Regions from separate parts of the Homo sapiens genome. Here region 2 is linked to region 1. The links come from fine-mapping of genetic effects on gene expression. Tissue or cell type: fibroblasts. Region 1 holds a variant in brackets; the other region holds the start of a gene. All regions are shown on one strand. Distances are between the middles of the regions.

Region 1 (8,104 bases):
GACCCAGCCATCCCATTACTGGGTATATATCCAAAGGACTATAAATCATGCTGCTATAAAGACACATGCACACGTATGTTTATTGCGGCACTACTCACAATAGCAAAGACTTGGAACCAACCCAAATGTCCAACAATGATAGACTGGATTAAGAAAATGTTGCACATATACACCATGGAATACTATGCAGCCATAAAAAACGATGAGTTCACGTCCTTTGTAGGGACATGGATGAAATTGGAAATCAACATTCTCAGTAAACTATCTCAAGGACAAAAAACCAAACACCACATGTTCTCACTCATAGGTGGGAATTGAACAGTGAGAACACATGGACACAGGAAGGGGAACATCACACTCTGGGGACTGTTGTGGGGTGGGGGGAGCGGGGAGGGATAGCATTAGGAGATATACCTAATGCTAAATGACGAGTTAATGGGTGCAGCACCCCAGCATGGCACATGTATACATATGTAACTAACCTGCACATTGTGCACATGTACCCTAAAACTTAAAGTATAATAATAATTAAAAAAAAAAAGATAAAGAACCCAGGGCTCAAGGGGAACCCACGATTGCTCAAGATCATCGTCAATAACAGAGCTTGGTGGAAATTCACAAGTACTGACTCCACGGCCAGAGATCGTCTCTCCACTGGAGAGCGACTTCCTCCCTCTGGGTATGTGGCCTGTCAGTTTGACAACCAGGCCCTGCCTCCACTCCTTTAAATGCAGGGTCAGCCTGAGGGAGGGAAGAGGCAGAAAAAGGGCCCAGAGGTGCCAGATCTTCCTACAGTGGCCCTGTGCCAGGCCGTTCACCCAGAGGGAGGGTCTGCCTTCCATGTGCATCCCAACTGTCCTTTCTTTCTGTGTCTCCACCCTGGCTGTGAGGCTCTTCCCAGCAGACAGATCACAATGGACCTGTCCCTGTTATGATCCTTTGTTTGGTGACAGATAAACTGGGCAAAGTCTAAAGGCTGCCCCTGAGACAGTACTCACGATTACAATGATTTTTCCAGCCGCGTCATCCTTTTAAACTTTCATTTGACTTCCTGTTCCTCACGAGCACAGGGAGAAATGAGGGCTCCGTTCCTTGAACCAGAAACACAAAAGGGAGTTCTCCAAGCTGATCTGTGCCTGTGCATTTGGCAAGGACAAAAGCAGATGCTCTGATGTGACTGTTTCCTGGTTCTTCCTCTTTGCATTGAAACCTGCTCTCTCCGCTCTTCGGCAAATTCGCCCCGAGGAAGTAAGGTGCTGGGCACCTGTCACCACTGTATTGACTTGAAACTCCTGAATGTGCCCACTGCCCTCAGAATCCCTCCGGGGCCTGAAATCACCTCCATATTGATTTCTTGTTGCTGCTGTAACAAATGACCTCCAACTTGGTGGCTGCAACAACACAAATGTAGTACCTTACAGCTCTGGAGGTCAGAAGTCTGACACGGCCTCCCTGGGCGAAAGTAAAGGTGTCTGTAGGGCTGCAGTCCTTTCTGGAGGCTCTGAGGGAGGATTCCACTTCACACTGTGCCCAGCTTTTAGAGGTGTCCATGCCCCTTGGCTTACATCCCCCCATCCATCATCAAAGCCAGCAACGTTGCACCTCCTGCGTTCTTCACAGCCGTGTCTCCGCTGTAAACACAGCTGGGAAAGGTTCTCACTCACAAGGACCCTTGTGATGACACTGCACCCACAGGATATTCCAGGGTCCTCTCCCTGCCTCACAGACAGCTGATTGCAACCTGAACTCCTCTGCTACCTGAATTCCTGTTTGCTGTGAAAAGTAACATAGGCTTAGGTCCTGGGGATTAGGAGGTGAGCCTCTTTGTTTCGGGGTCGGGGCTCCTCGTTCTGCCCACCACACCTCCCATTAAGGCTTGCCATCATGATGGGCCATTACTGAAATGAGGGTGTTACCTGGGCAGTCGGGGTTTAAGGCCATCCCCACCACTGCGCACCAGCCCGCTGATCATGAGCACGGTGCTGGTCATAGTTTTTGAGACAGGGAGGTCCTAGAAGGCTCCAACAGCAGGAAAGGTAGGTTTCTCTAGCACTCATGGGTGGATGCCTTAGAAATAAGAGAGAAACAAACAGCCTCTGGGCCTTGAGAGGTTTAGATTTCCCATTTGAAGCAGAGGTGGTGTGGAGGGGAGGGCCGGGGCCAGCACCTGTTCAGAAAATGCATTCCCCAGAGATGGAAGCAGGTGACAGTGTTCTCACATTAGTTGTGCTGAGAGAAAAAGTCCTTCGTTCAGCTGCGCCCAAGGCTTTATTCACAGACTCCCGTCTCTCCCAGGGGTGCTGGAAAGACCTTGGGGACCTCCTCACCCTTCTTGCTGGAAGATGCCCGTACCGCAGCGCACGAGACCCCAGCTTTTCCGGGGCGGCTGCACTGTCAACTCAATGCCTAGCAAGGATGCGTCCGGCTGGGCATAAAGACAGCCCGGCCCGCTAAGCAGAGAAAGCTTCCCCTTCACCACCAGGCTGCTGACAGGTGTGAGTGGGGCAGGGCAGGGAGGAATCACTGAGGCACACCCAGGAAGCCTGACGAGAGGGGCCAAGCTCTGTCCGGACGTGGTGGCTGAGCACCCTGCAGAGGCTCAGTGGCCCTGGCAGCCCCTCGCCTGCTCTCTGGAGGCCTTTGCTCTCTAGTCCCCTCCCTTGAACTCTGAACTTCCACGGGTGAGGGGGGTGATAGAATAATGGCTTTATTTTCCCAGTCTGAAAAAAATAATATAGAAGAAATAACAGCTGGGCCTTCCTCTGCATGGAGTTTCCGCTCCCACGAGCATGTCCGTGTTTAGCATCGGCAGCCACCTGGCCATGCTGGACTCGGTGTGGCTGTGTCTGCAGTCGCATAGACATTTATGGTATTTCCAGTGGCCTGTCAACAGTGCCTGGTGTTCTCTAACAAGTGCTGTGGACTCCAAGGGCCTGACCACCTGCAGGGCTTGAGAACCACAGTTCAAGCAAGGTGAGACAGGGTCGGCAAGGCTGGCCTTGGCGTCTCCACAGGTCAGTTGGTCCTCAGCCAGGCATGCCACCCTGTGGGCTTTGGGGCTGCTTTCCCTCTGGAGTCTAACTCAAAGCCTTTTTTTTTTTTTTTTTTTGAGATAGAGTCTCGCTCTGTCACCCAGGCTGGAGTGCAATGGTGCGATCTCTGCTCAATGCAACCTCTGCCTCCTGGGTTCAAGCGATTCTCCTGCCTCTGTCTCCTGAGTAGCTGAGATTACAGGCACCCGCCACCACACCCTTTTGTATTTTTGGTAGAGGCCAGGGTTTCACCATGTTGGCAGGCTGGTCTTGAACTCCTGACCTCAAGTGATCTGCCTGCCTCAGCCTCCCAAAGTGCTGGGATTACAGGCATGAGTCACCACGCCCAGCCTGGAAGCCTCTAAATGAGCCAGGTGTCCCTGTGTCTTTGAGAGCACTGAGGGCTGGGCTCCAGTGGGCAGGGCAGCCCATCCGCGATGTCAGCACATGGATCTCTGGCTCCTTGTTAGACAGGAGCTCTGTACAGTAGAGTGGCGGGAAGGTCACAGAGCCCTCTCTCTCTACAAGGTCTCTGAGTAAAAAGTGCCTGAAGTGTCCACCTCCAGCACCGCAGCATGCTGGAATTGCCGGCTGTCTCTCGAGTTTCCTTTTAGAACCTTCTCTAGAGCTCTGCGATTCACAGAATGGATTCACAGCTGCTAGAGTGGTAAAACCCATTGCAGATTGTTCAGACGATTAGAAAAAATTCTCTTGTATGGAGCCCAAATTTGCCTCTAATTCTGACCCCTGAGCTATATTGAATTAGTTCAGTCTTCTTCTCATGGCAGGTTCAAATCTTTAAAGCTGATTGGAGACCTCAGCAAGGCCCTTCCAGTTTCCCCACTTCTTTATGGAAGCTTCTTCCCAGTTGGGATGCACCTGAGACAGCCCCTCCTCTAGATCCGGCCTTCTTTACTCACTCCTCCTACAAATCAACTCAGGGGGGGCCATACTTTGAGCTCTGTGCTCTCTCAATTCAAATTGCACTTTTAAGAAGTGACAACAATGACCTCTGAATTTCACGTTGCCTTGTGTATTTTCTAAGTGGTTCCATAGAATGAAAGCAGGTTTTTCCAGGTTGGCTAAAATCTACCTGCAGCCACATCTTAGCCATGTGGTATAATAACTAAAAGTATGGGCCATGGAATCAGGCTGCTTGAATTCACATCCTGGCTTGATCACTTACGAGCTATGTGTTTTTGAGCAAGTTACTTAACCTCTCTGTGCTTCAGTTTTCCATCTGCCAATTAGTGATAATAAGAGTGCCTACCTCAAAGCGTTGTTGTTAGGATTAAATATTTTTAATCCTAAATTAATGTGTGTTAAAGCCTTTAGTAGAATGTGTGGTTCTTAAAAAGTGGCATTAAAACGATGTCAGCTGTTGTTATCCTTAAGCTTCTCTGCAACCCCAGAGTACCCAGAACTGTGTTGAGGACCCACTGTCTCCCAATCAGTAATCATTAACGGGTCCAGATACTGTAGCACCATATGAAAGCACCCGGGTGTCTTAATACAGTATCTAGTCTCAACTTTCATCCTAAGGATGGTGAG[T/A]CTGGGGTCACAGTAGACCTCACCATCCATCAAGTTGGCCATCACTTCCTTTGAGGGCAGCCCCTCGAAAACACACGGACAGCTCACCATCTGGTGGACAGATTCACAGCTGCTGGAGTGGTAAAGCTCATTGCAGATTGTTCAGACCATTAGACAAAATTTCCTTGTATGGAGCCCAAATCTGCCTCTAATTCTGACCACTAAACTGTACATCGAATTAGTCCAAGTCCTCTCCTCATGGCAGGTTCGAATCTTTGACACTAAGGAACTCTTCTAAAAGCCCTCGGTGGTGCTCTAAGTGACAAGGCAAGACGAAGTGACTTAAATAAGAGTAAAGGACACTGTGCCACTCTGGAAGTGAGGGACTCAGCTTCTGACCCCAGCCTGCACAGACTCCCCAAGGCCTGGGAATTGCCCTTTCTTAACTCTTTCCTACAAAATAGATCCTAATTTATGAGTTTCCCCCTCTCTTCCTCAGTGAGTCCAGACCCGGCACTGGCCTTCTCATGCCTGGTGGGGGCAGGTTGGCTTTTCTGCAGCCACACTTGCCTCTGTTCCATACTTTCTCCACCTAAGAGTTAAAGTAAGGTTTGTTTGTTTCAGGTGGGGTCTTGCTATGTAGCCCGGGCTGGCCTTGAACTCCTGGGCTCAAGTGATCTTCCCGAGTAGCTCAGACTACAGGGATGCACCCTGCACCAGGCTTAAAGTGAGTTTTTGAAAAGAGATCTCACATGAAAAGATGCTTGACATCATTAGTCATCAGAGAGGCGCAAATTGAAACCACAGTGAGACACCACTTCATACCCACTCAGAATCAAAGGGACAATAACAACTGTTGGCGAAGATGAGGAGCAATTGGAACCCTCATTCATTGCTGGTGAGATTGTGAAACGGTGCATCCGCTTTGGAAAACAATCTGGCAGTTCCTCAAAAGATTAGCTGTGGAGTCACCACATGACCCAGAGATTCCACTCCCTGGCCGTCTCCCAAGAGAAATGAAAATATATTAAATCCACACAAAAACTTGTACACAAATCCCATAGCAGCACTATTTGTGATAGCCAAAATGTGAAAATCAACCAAATGTTTATCAACTGATGATGGGTGGATAAATAAAATGTGATGTATGCCTACCTGGGAATATTATTCAGCCACAAGATTGAAGTACTGATGCACGCCACAGCATGGAAGAATCTAAGCAAAAGTAGCCAGCCACGAAAGGCCACATGTTATACAATATCACGTATATGAAATGTCCAGGATAAGCAAATCCGCAGGGACAGAAAGTGGATGAGCTGTTCCCAAGGGTTAGAGGGCGAGGGAATGAGGGGTGAGGAGTGGCTGTTGACGGGGATTATTTGGGGAATAAAAAAGATGTTCTAAGATTAGATTATGGTGATGATTACACAACCTCATAAATATACTAAAAACCACTGAACCTTACGCTTCAAATGGGTAGGCTTTTTGGTTCCTAAATCATATCTCAATAAAGCTATTATGTAAAAGTGAATTTTTAAGCTATTTTTTATTTTACAGTTTATATGTTTGATAGTACAATTTACATAATTTATCATGCATGTTTATATCTTAATAAAAAAAAGAAAGAAGAACATATTGGGCCAGGCTATTAAGGAGTAGCATAAGGGAGTTTCTTTGGGGAGATAGGACAGTTTCACGTCCTGACTGAGGTGGTGATTACTGGAGTCTACAAGTGTGATTAAATGTCATATATCTATACACCAAGAGGAAGGGACGGAGTCACTTGAACCCGGGAGGCGGAGGTTGCAGTGAGCTGAGATTGTGCCACTGCACTCCAGCCTGGAGACAGAGAGAGACTCCATCTAAAAAAAAAAAAAAAAAAAAAAAGCCAGACATTCTAAAAGCTTATCAATGGGGGAATAATTTTGTTATCTTTGTACATATATACTATGGCATATATTACATCATTTAAAAATAGCGTAGACACATGTAAATAAAGATCAATGATAAGAGAAAAAGTGACAAATATGTATAATCTGATCCAATTAATGTTTTTAAAAAAGAAAAAGGCTGCATGTATGTAAAAAGGCCTAGAAAGAGCTCTGAATAAATTTATTTTGTATTGCTATAAAGGAATATCGGACACTGGGTAATTTATCAGTAAAAGAGGTTTATTTGGCTCACAGTTCTGCAGGCTGCAGAGAAGCATGGCACCAGCATCTGCTTCTGCTGAGGGTCTCAGGGAGCTTCCAATCATGGTGGGAGGGGAAGGGGAGCTGTCATGTCATATGGCAAGAGAAAGGGAGCAAGAGAGAAAGGGGAGGACATGCCAGTCTCTCTTTATTTTATTTACTTGTTTTTGAAATGGAGTCTCACTCTTTCACCCAGGCTGGGGTGCAGTGGCGTGAACTTGGTCCAGTGCAACCCCTGTCCGCCTCCCAGGTTTAAGAGATTCTCAGGTCTTGGCATCCCAAGTAGCTGGGATCACAGGCACCCACCAAGAAGCCCAGCTTATTTTTGTATTTTTAGTAGAGATAGGGTTTCACCATGTTGGCCAGGCTGGTCTTGAACTCTTGACCTCAAGTGATCCACCTGGCTGGGTCTCCCAAAGTGCTGGGATTGCAGGCATGAGCTGCCAAGCCTGGCCCCAAGCTCTTGTTTTTTGAGACAGAGTCTCGCTCAGTCACCCAGGCTGGAGTGCAGTGGTGCAATCTTGGCTCACTGCAACCTCTGCCTCCTGGGTTCAAGCGATTCTTGTGCCTCAGTCTCTTGAGTAGCTGGGATCACAGGCACCTGCCACCAAGCCCAGCTAATTTTTGTATTTTTAGTAGAGATGGGGTTTCATGATGTTGACCAGGCTGGTCTTGAACTCCTGACCTCAAGTGATCCTCCTGCCTCAGTCTCCCAAAGTGCTGGGATTACAGGCATGAGCCACCGTACCTGGCTTCAGGCTCTTTTTAAACAACCAAACCTAAAGGTAACTAACAGAATGAGAGCTCATTTATTGCGATGGGGATGGCACCAAGCCATTCATAAGGGATCCACCCCATGATCCAAGCACCTCTCATTAGACCCCACCTCCAACACTGGGGATCACATTTCAACATGAGATTTGGAGGTGACAAATATCCAAACTGTACCAAGCTCTGAAAGTAAAACTAAATTGATGCACAGTGCTTACCTCTCCTAGACTCAGAGGGCGGAAGTCAATGCCCTCTCGTGGTGGGGGTGGAGGAGGGAAGGAAGACATGTGAAGGTCAATTTCATCATTTTATGAAAAGCATGAATACTAACGAGAATTTCTTATGATGACATGTCCAAGTATCTTTTGCTATTTTTTTTTTTTTTTTTTTGAGATGGAGTCTTGCTCTGTCACCCAGGCTGGAGTGCAGTGGCATGATCTCGCTCACTGCAAGCTCTGCCTCCCAGGTTTACACCATTCTCCTGCCTCAGCCTCCCCAGTAGCTGGGACTACAGGCGCCTGCCACCATGCCCGGCTAATTTTTTGTATTTTTAGTAGAGATGGGGTTTCGCCATGTTAG
Region 2 (8,104 bases), 740 kb before region 1:
GAGTGAAGAGACTCGGCATCTGCGCTGGGTAGAGAATGAGTGAGGACATGAGCGGCTGACAGATGAGAAGGGAGTAGAGGAAGAAGCCAGGGACTCCAGGTTCTGGAAATCTGGAGAAGAAAGATCTGAGCCCCCATGTGTCTGGTGCAAGATCAGACTGTCTCTGTCCATGCTATTAGCATGCTCTAGAGTTAGGAGTATCCCAAAGACAAAATTAAAATAAAACAGTTAGGGGTACCTGTCCCATGAACCACAGGAGGGTTCGCCATGGACTCTAACAGACATACGATGGGAGCCACCTAGGTAATTTAAACTTCTCTAGTTGCCACATTATAAAAAGGAATACGTAAAATTAATTTTAATAACATTTTACTTGACCCAATATATCCAAAATATTATCCACACATGATCAACATAAAAAATTAGTAAGATATTTTACATTTTTTCTCTACTGTCCTTCTGGAATCTGATGTGACAGCACAGCTACAGAATGCTCAGTTTCGCTGAAACAATGTATTTCTGTAGCACACGCACATCCCTGGCTTTCGGGGGCAGTTCCGATTTCAAAGGTTCATCCATCCCAGCCCCCACAGGGCACTGTCCCTGCGGGATCTCCATCCTCACTGGGCTTCAGGAAGTAGCTACTCTGGCCTCCTTGCCCACCATACCCACTGCTTTTGTCACTATATTCACTGTGGTCACTCACGGCCCATCTTCATAAAATGCAACTACAAACTCAGCAAAAGCTGCCAGCAGGCTTCAGGTTCTCAGAGCAGTCCTGCCCTCAAACCACACACCAGCCCCTTATCAGTAACTGCAGTGAGAGGAGCCCTCCTGAGTCCTCCACACAGGCACCAACTGAACATGCCCCAGCGGAGGGGATACATGTGTGCAGTCCACAGTTTAATGAAGGCATGCTGCCCACCCCGCCGAAGCCCCCCACACAAAAAACCTCCAGGAGGCAGCTTTGCCCTAATCTCACAGTACTGTAGGGGCCCACATTTGCTCCTAAAACCCTGCCCCTAACTCACTCAGGTCAGAGCCTCATCTATCTGCCAGGCACAGCCAGACGGTTCTGATGAAGTGTCGCTTATCCCATCAATCCACACCCTGCTCCTCCTCAAGCACCTGCATCTTTTAAGAGTCCTTCTGGCCAAAGTGATACGATGGAGAATTATCAGTGAAAAGGGACCTTACATCTGTATGAAGACAGCTGCGAATTCCTCCCCAAAGGGGCGGCTTAGGCCTTCCTTTAGAAGAGGAATGTAACACAGTTATGCTAAAGCTGCTTTCAGCACACGTCTGTACATATTTCATGGTAGACTGTGTTTTTAAAGTTTCTGATGCAATCAAAGTTTTCTGTTCACACAGTTTAGGAGGCATACCCAGCAAAATGCTGAGACAGATGGAGGTATTATTATTAAAATATAAAGCTGCATTTTTGAAAAAAGATTTTTGTATTTTTCTAAAAATTAACAAATTAACATTGGAATTCCTTTTCAGCTCAGCTTTTTTAGTGTTTTGATTAGAAAATACACACACGCAATTGCTCTTTACCTCCAGCATTTCAAAGAGATGTGCCAACACCTCAGGCTGCTCTTAGAATGATAAATTACACATTTTTTTTTAATTACAAATTAACAATGACCACCACTTCCTCTTAATCCTAACTGGCTTTAATATATAATAACTTCTCAGGAAATCATACATCTAAATAAGGGCTTTTTATCAGATATCCTTATCCTCATAACATACAATATGTATTTATCTGTTTGAAAAGCAAAAAAAAAAAAAAAAATAGTGTGCCAACCCTAGGCTTGTTTCTTCAAATTATATATTCATAATTTCTCAATGTGGTGGAACAAAATATATTCTGTTCTTAAAATAAAAAGAAGGCCGGGTGCAGTGGCTCACACCTGTAATCCCAGCACCTTTGGAAGGCCAAGGTGGGCAGATCACCCGAGGTCGGGAGTTCGAGACCACCCTGACCAACATGGAGAAACTCTGTCTCCAAAAATACAAAATTAGCCGGGTATGATGGCACATGCCTGTAATCCCAGCTACTTGGGAGGCTGAGGCAGGAAGATCGCTTGAACCCGGGAGGCGGAGGTTGCGGTGAGGTGAGATCACGCCATTGCACTCCAGCCTGGGCAACAAGAGCAAAACTCCATCTCAAAAAAAAAAAAAAAAGGTACGAGCTGGGTGTGGTGGCACATGCCTGTAGTCCCAACTACTCAGGAGGTAGAGGCAGAGCTGCTTGAGCTGAGGAGTTCAACACAAGTCTCAGCAACACAGTGAGACCCCTATCCCAGAAAAACAAAAGAAGAAAGAAAAAAGGAGGCAGTCTCGTCTTGTTTAAGGCTGTCACCAAAACATACTAGCATGGCAGGATATCTGGGGACAGAGTGAGGGGTCACAGGAACAATGGTCATGGCATAAGAGGACTGGGCACGTGTAGGCCACCAAAGCCTGACACCTAAACACCCTTCCTGACATCTAGTATTTCAGAAACAAAACAGAACTGGATTTCCTTACACTTACTTTGAGTCACATACAGAAGTGGTGGGCGCACCCGATGATGCTCAGGGTTTCTAAAGGCCTCACTCTGTGCCTGGTGGTATGGTCATTTATTCCTTCACTGAAGGCACTCTGAGCGCCTGCTCTGTGCCGTGCACATGCTAAGAACTAGAGACAGAAAGATGAATCGCACAGTCCCCGTCTCAAGCAGCTCAAAGTCCAGTGAGAGCTCCTAGTCTCCAATGTTTTTAAAAAGAGGAAAGAGAAAAAGATATTTTACAACAAAATCTACACTCAACCAACTGAACAATGAAATAATTCTCTTTACACCCGAGTGATATCAACAGCCCCCTAAGCTTTCATAGCAACTGGTAGATGAAAAGTCGCCACCCTAACTGCTCTCCTCCACTGTGCAAACCTACTCTAAATCCCAAATCACTACCCAGGAGGGTCCTTTCTAAAGCAATGGATTTGCAGCAAAGAATGCTTTTCTGGTGTTGCACCTGACAACCTCACAGGCCCCACAGGCCCCCTTCCACAGCCCACAGGTGCAGGTTTACCTCTATACATACGAATATTTCATAGATGCTTCTCCCCACTAACCTAGAAGCCCCAGCAGAAGTGAGGACCATGTTTCCTTGTGCATGCCACTGTAAACCCAGGGCCCAGTCCAGAATGAGGGCTCAACAGATGTTTATAGAAGGAGTGAAGATTTAGAGAAATCGAAAAAATTTTAGATCTTACAAGGCCCTTGCATCTAAACACTCCTCCAATTATGGCTAAAAAATGAGGAGCTATAGAAAACTGTCCTATTTAAATTTTGTTTCTAAAAACATTCATTTTGGCTTCTTTTAAAAAAGTTACTCAATTACTGAACAGATCACTGGTGTGGCCTGTTGAACACAGTGCTGTAACTTCCTGCACAAGAGACAAGTCTGAAAGTTTTGCTTTCCGCTGTGAAAGCATTGGTGACTGCTTGACAGACTCGCTTGAAGCAAATAATGTGTTTTTGGTTAAAAAAAAAAAGTATAAACGCCTAATAACAAAATAGGCATATTTTTGGCTAGAATTTTTTTTTCCAAGGAAAAACCTCCAGCTCATTTTGCTGCCTAAGCCAAAACAGATGCTCCCACTAAGTTGGTGGTGGAACAGACCCAAAGATTCCAATAATGACATATATAACGTGTGTCAACAAGAAAACAAGTGTAAAATCTGCAAACGAGTCCCCAGCTAAGGCGAAATCTTGACAACGCTACTCTGAGGTGAGCGATCCCCTCCCTCCTCCGGGGTTAGGAGTGGCCCAGGAGAGGCGGCGGTGACACGCGCTCTGCGGCCCGGCCGTGTCCCTCTCGGCGCCCCGGGACCCCGCGTGTGGAGAAGGAGAGGCCCGGCGGAGGGAAGTGGCCGGGGAGGACCCTACCTGCCAGCCTCCGGCGCTCAGGGTACGCCAGCCCCAGGAGCTTCCGGGCCTCCGGGAGTCCGGCCGCTGCGGGGCGCAGCCGCCCCTTGTCCCCGGGAGGCGCCGCCGGCCCGCGCCGCCAGGCCTCGTCCCCTGCCCAGGCAGCGGCTGCGGGACCGCCCGGGAACCGGGCGCGCGGGAGCCGAGGAGCGCCTGGCCCGGCAAAAGCCCCGCACCTGCAGCTGCCGGGGCCGCGAGCCCACAGCCCCAGGAGCCGCGCGAGGCCCAGGACGCCCCGCGAGGCGCCCGGACCCCCGCCCCGGCAGCCGCTCCTCCAGCGGCGCGCGGCTCCAACGCCCCAGAGCAGCGCGGGCCCCGCGCCCCATAGCCGCGCCGGCCTCAGGCCAGTGAACGGCGATAGGGACCCGGGAACGCGGCTGGCCGCGGCCCACACGCAGGCTACCGGCAGGAGCCGACCTGGCTCGGCAGGGCTCGGTGGCTCGAGCAGCCGCAGCGGCCAGGCAGGGGGGCCTCGCATGGCGCTGCGTGCGACCCGTACGCCTCAGCCCGCCGGCCAGGCGCGCGCAAAGCCCGAGGACCCTCCCGGCCCGGCCCCGAGCAAAGGGCGTGGACGCGGTGGCGCCCGCCCCTCCCCGCTGGCTGTCACCCGCCTTATCGTGCCTGCACCCTCGGGCTGCGCCCGCCCCCGCCCCATCCTCGTCCGCGCGGTGCCGCGCCTCTCCGCCCCACTCCGGGGACTGCAGCTACCCGGACCTTGCAAGCCACCCTTCCGAGCGCCCCCAACCCGCTCGGGTGCCCTCCCTGCAGCGCCCCCAACTGCCCGCTGGCGGAGGAGCGCCGGGCGCGCCAGCTGGGACGAGGCCCGGGAAGCCCAGGAGCACGGCTGCGCCTGCGTACTGGGCGCAGGGAACTTTTTCGCGCTTCGCCGTCCCCTCTGGTCTGAACTTGGGAACGACACGAGCTCTTTCTCACGCCGGCAGACCGGGCGGAGCGCGCAGACGCGACCACACGATGGCCGGCACAAAGATGGGGCGGGAGGACAGCGTGCTGGATACGGCGTGGGGCGGGTCCGCGGCCCGGGAGACCCATGCTGGGGCGGCCCTGTCACTCGTCTCGCTGCCAAGCACAGGGCTGAGGTGCGGAGGGACCACTGAGAGGACTTCGCTGCGTGTCAGCTCAGCTCTGGACGGCGTGGAGGAGGTGGTTGGCGAATAGTGAAATGTATATAACTTTGAGAAGGGAAGAGATCGTTTCTTTTTTTTCTTTTTTTTTTTTTTCTTGAGACGATCTCGGCTCACTGCAACCTCTGCCTCCCAGGTTCAAGTGATTCTCCCTTCTCAGCCTCCCAAGTAGCTGGGATTACAGGCATACGCCACCACACCCGGCTGATTTTGTATTTTTAGTAGAGACGGGGTTTTACCATGTTGGTCAGGCTCTTTTCGAACTCCTGACCTCAGGTGATCCGCCCGCGTCAGCCTCCCAAAGTGCTGGGATTGCAGGCGTGAGCCACCGTGCCCGGCCTGAGATCGTTTCTTAACTAGAGCAGAAATTTGAAGACAGGCGTGGTCGAGGCATTCCCGCTGTTCGAAGTGGAAAACACTAATCAGAAGGCAATGCATCTTAATACACGTGCATGGAAAGACAGGAGAGAACATTAAAACTCACTGGGACACTTTATGGAGACTTCATGGGGGCGGGGGGGGATATGTACCTGAGGTCCAGTGAGTCGTGGGTAGATTTTTGTAGACTCCTAGGTATTTTTACTGGACCTGGACAGGGTACTGTCAGTTGCAAATTTTATGGGTTCACAAAATAAAAAAACCTCAATAATCAACATAAACATTTTAGTGCAATATTTTTAAAAATCAAAATTAATTTAAAAAATCCGTAATGAACAAAATATAAAAAATTTTGATTGAGTATCCACTCCTGACCTTTCACAATCCTGCCTCTCTTCTCTCGCTCTAATCCCAGCCCTGGAAACTTTATTTACAAAAACTGACAGCAGCTGCCCTTAGTTTGGCAGCTGGAAAATGGGAAAGAGAAAGTAAGAGGAAGGTGAGATTTGGGTTAAAGTTGTCACTTTCTCTTCAACTGGGAGGGTATCAATCCTTGATGTTTCTTTAGTTGGGCTCAAAAAGGAGGTAGCGGCCGGGCGCGGTGGCTCACACCTGTAATCCCAACATTTTGGGAGGCTGAGGCGGGCGAATCACGAGGTCAGGAGTTCGAGACCAGCCTGACCGACGTGGTGAAACCCCGTCCCTACTAAAAATACAAAAATTAGCCAGGTGTGGTGGAGCGTGCCTGTAATCCCAGCTACGCAGGAGGCTGAGGCAGGAGAATTGCTTGAACCCGGGAGGCGGAGGTTGCAGTGAGCTGAGATGGTGCCACACCGCACTCCAGCCTGGGAGACAGAGCAAGACTCCGTCTCAAAAAAAAAAAAGAAAAGAAAAAAAAAGAGGAGGTAGCGGCCAGGCGGTGGCTCACACCTGTAATCCCAACATTCTAGGAGGCCGAGGCGGGCGGATCACTCCAGGTCTGGAGTTTGAGACCAGCCTGGCCAACATGGTGAAACTCCATCCCTACTGAAAATACAAAAATTAGCTGGGCTTGGTGGTGCATGCCTGTAGTCTCAGCTACTTGGGACGCTGAGGGAGCATAATCGGTTGAATCCAGGAGGTGGAGGTTGCAGTGAGCTGAGATCACGTCACTGCACTCCATGCACTCTAGCCTGGGCGACACACCAAGACTGCATCTTTTCAAAACAAAATAAAAACAAAAAAAACACAAAGAGGAGGTAGCAAGATGCACAATGAAAACGATCCCATTTCTTTTCAGAAGTCACCTCATAAAAACTGACTTAAAAATTTTCAATTAAAATAAATTTTGCATGATTTGATTACTGAGACTTTTTAGCACATCTTTAAATTTTGTCCCTAGTAGAGTGCCTTAAGTATATGGTCCTGGTAGGTAAGGAGTGAGGTGGGGGAAGGATCGATAATAGAAAGTGTGGGGTTAAGTCGGGCCTTAAATGTGCCTGTGAAATGAGCAGTAAGCATGTAATCCTCTAAAGTCCAACCTCTTAAACCCAGAGGACATGGAGTCTCGCCTCCCTACCCCCGCCCCCCCACTTTCCTGCCCCCAGGGTGACGACAATTCAAGCTAGTTTCTCATCAGTGCAGAAGTTCTAGAATTGGTGGTGTAGTGTGAAATCAGCTCCACTGATATTTATGACTAAGCATGTTCCTTTTAGCAAATATGTTATTCAGTGACTTCTGAAAAGAAGTAGGATCATGCCTCATCATGCATCCTGCTACCTCTTCTTTGAGCCCAGCTGAAGAAACATCAATGAACGACACTCTCCCAGTTGGAGAGAAAGTGACAATTTTAACCTAGACCTAAGCTTCATCTTTCTCTTACCCACTTTCCAGAAAACCCCTGCTGCTGCAAGGGCCAGGAAATGTCAGACTGGCCTTCCCTTCCTGCCTTCCCTGGCATGGCATCCCACTGCCTTTTTCTGCCATTGCTCTCTAAGGCCTCCAGTCAATAGAAAAATAACTCAAGTGTAGCTGATTAAAAAACAAAACTTGGCCAGGTGTGGTGGCTCACGCCTGTAATCCCAACACTTTGGGAAGCCAAGGTGGGAAGATCATTTGAGGCCAGGAGTTTGAGACCAACCTGTGCAACACTGGGAGACTCCATCTGTACAAAAACTAAAAATGTAAAAATTAGCTGGGTGTGGTGGTGTGTGCCTGTAGTCCCAGATACTTGGGAGGCTAAAGTGGAAGGATTCCCTGAGCCCGGCAGGTCAAAGCTTCAGTGAGCTGTGATTGGGCCACTGCACTCAAGCCTGGGCAACAGAGTGAGACCCTGTATCAAGAAAAAAAAGAAAGCCTGTAATCCCAGCACTTTGGGAGGCTGAGGTGGGTGGATCACCTGAGGTCAGGAGTTCAAGACCAGCCTGGCCAACATGGTGACACTTCATCTCTACTGAAAACACAAAAATTAGCTGTGTGTGGTGGTGGGTGCCTGGAATCCCAGCTACTGGGGAGGCTGAGGCAGGAGAATGGCTTGAACCCAGGAGGCGGAGGTTGCAGTGAGCAGAGATCACACCACTGCACTCCAGCCTGGGCAACAGAGCAAGACTCTGTCTCAAAAAAAAAAAAA

The links. PIP is the estimated chance that this variant, and not a neighbour inherited with it, causes the effect.
Region 2: it holds the start of ABCB10, and the variant in region 1 is fine-mapped to the expression of ABCB10 in fibroblasts (GTEx, PIP 0.99).

Annotation. Positions count from the first base shown.
Region 1 is chr1:230,298,612-230,306,715 of GRCh38, forward strand. No RefSeq gene overlaps it. Among named protein-coding and RNA genes, the nearest start is that of PGBD5, 120 kb to the right of the region's middle. RefSeq lists a silencer at 7,701-7,790. The variant T/A (reference allele first, on the strand shown) is at 4,584.
Region 2 is chr1:229,554,199-229,562,302 of GRCh38, forward strand. ABCB10 (ATP binding cassette subfamily B member 10) reads right to left here and starts at 4,509. Exons shown (of 13, transcript NM_012089.3): 1 at 3,938-4,509. The coding sequence starts at 4,454. RefSeq lists silencers at 3,719-4,168, 4,229-4,928 and an enhancer at 5,099-5,288.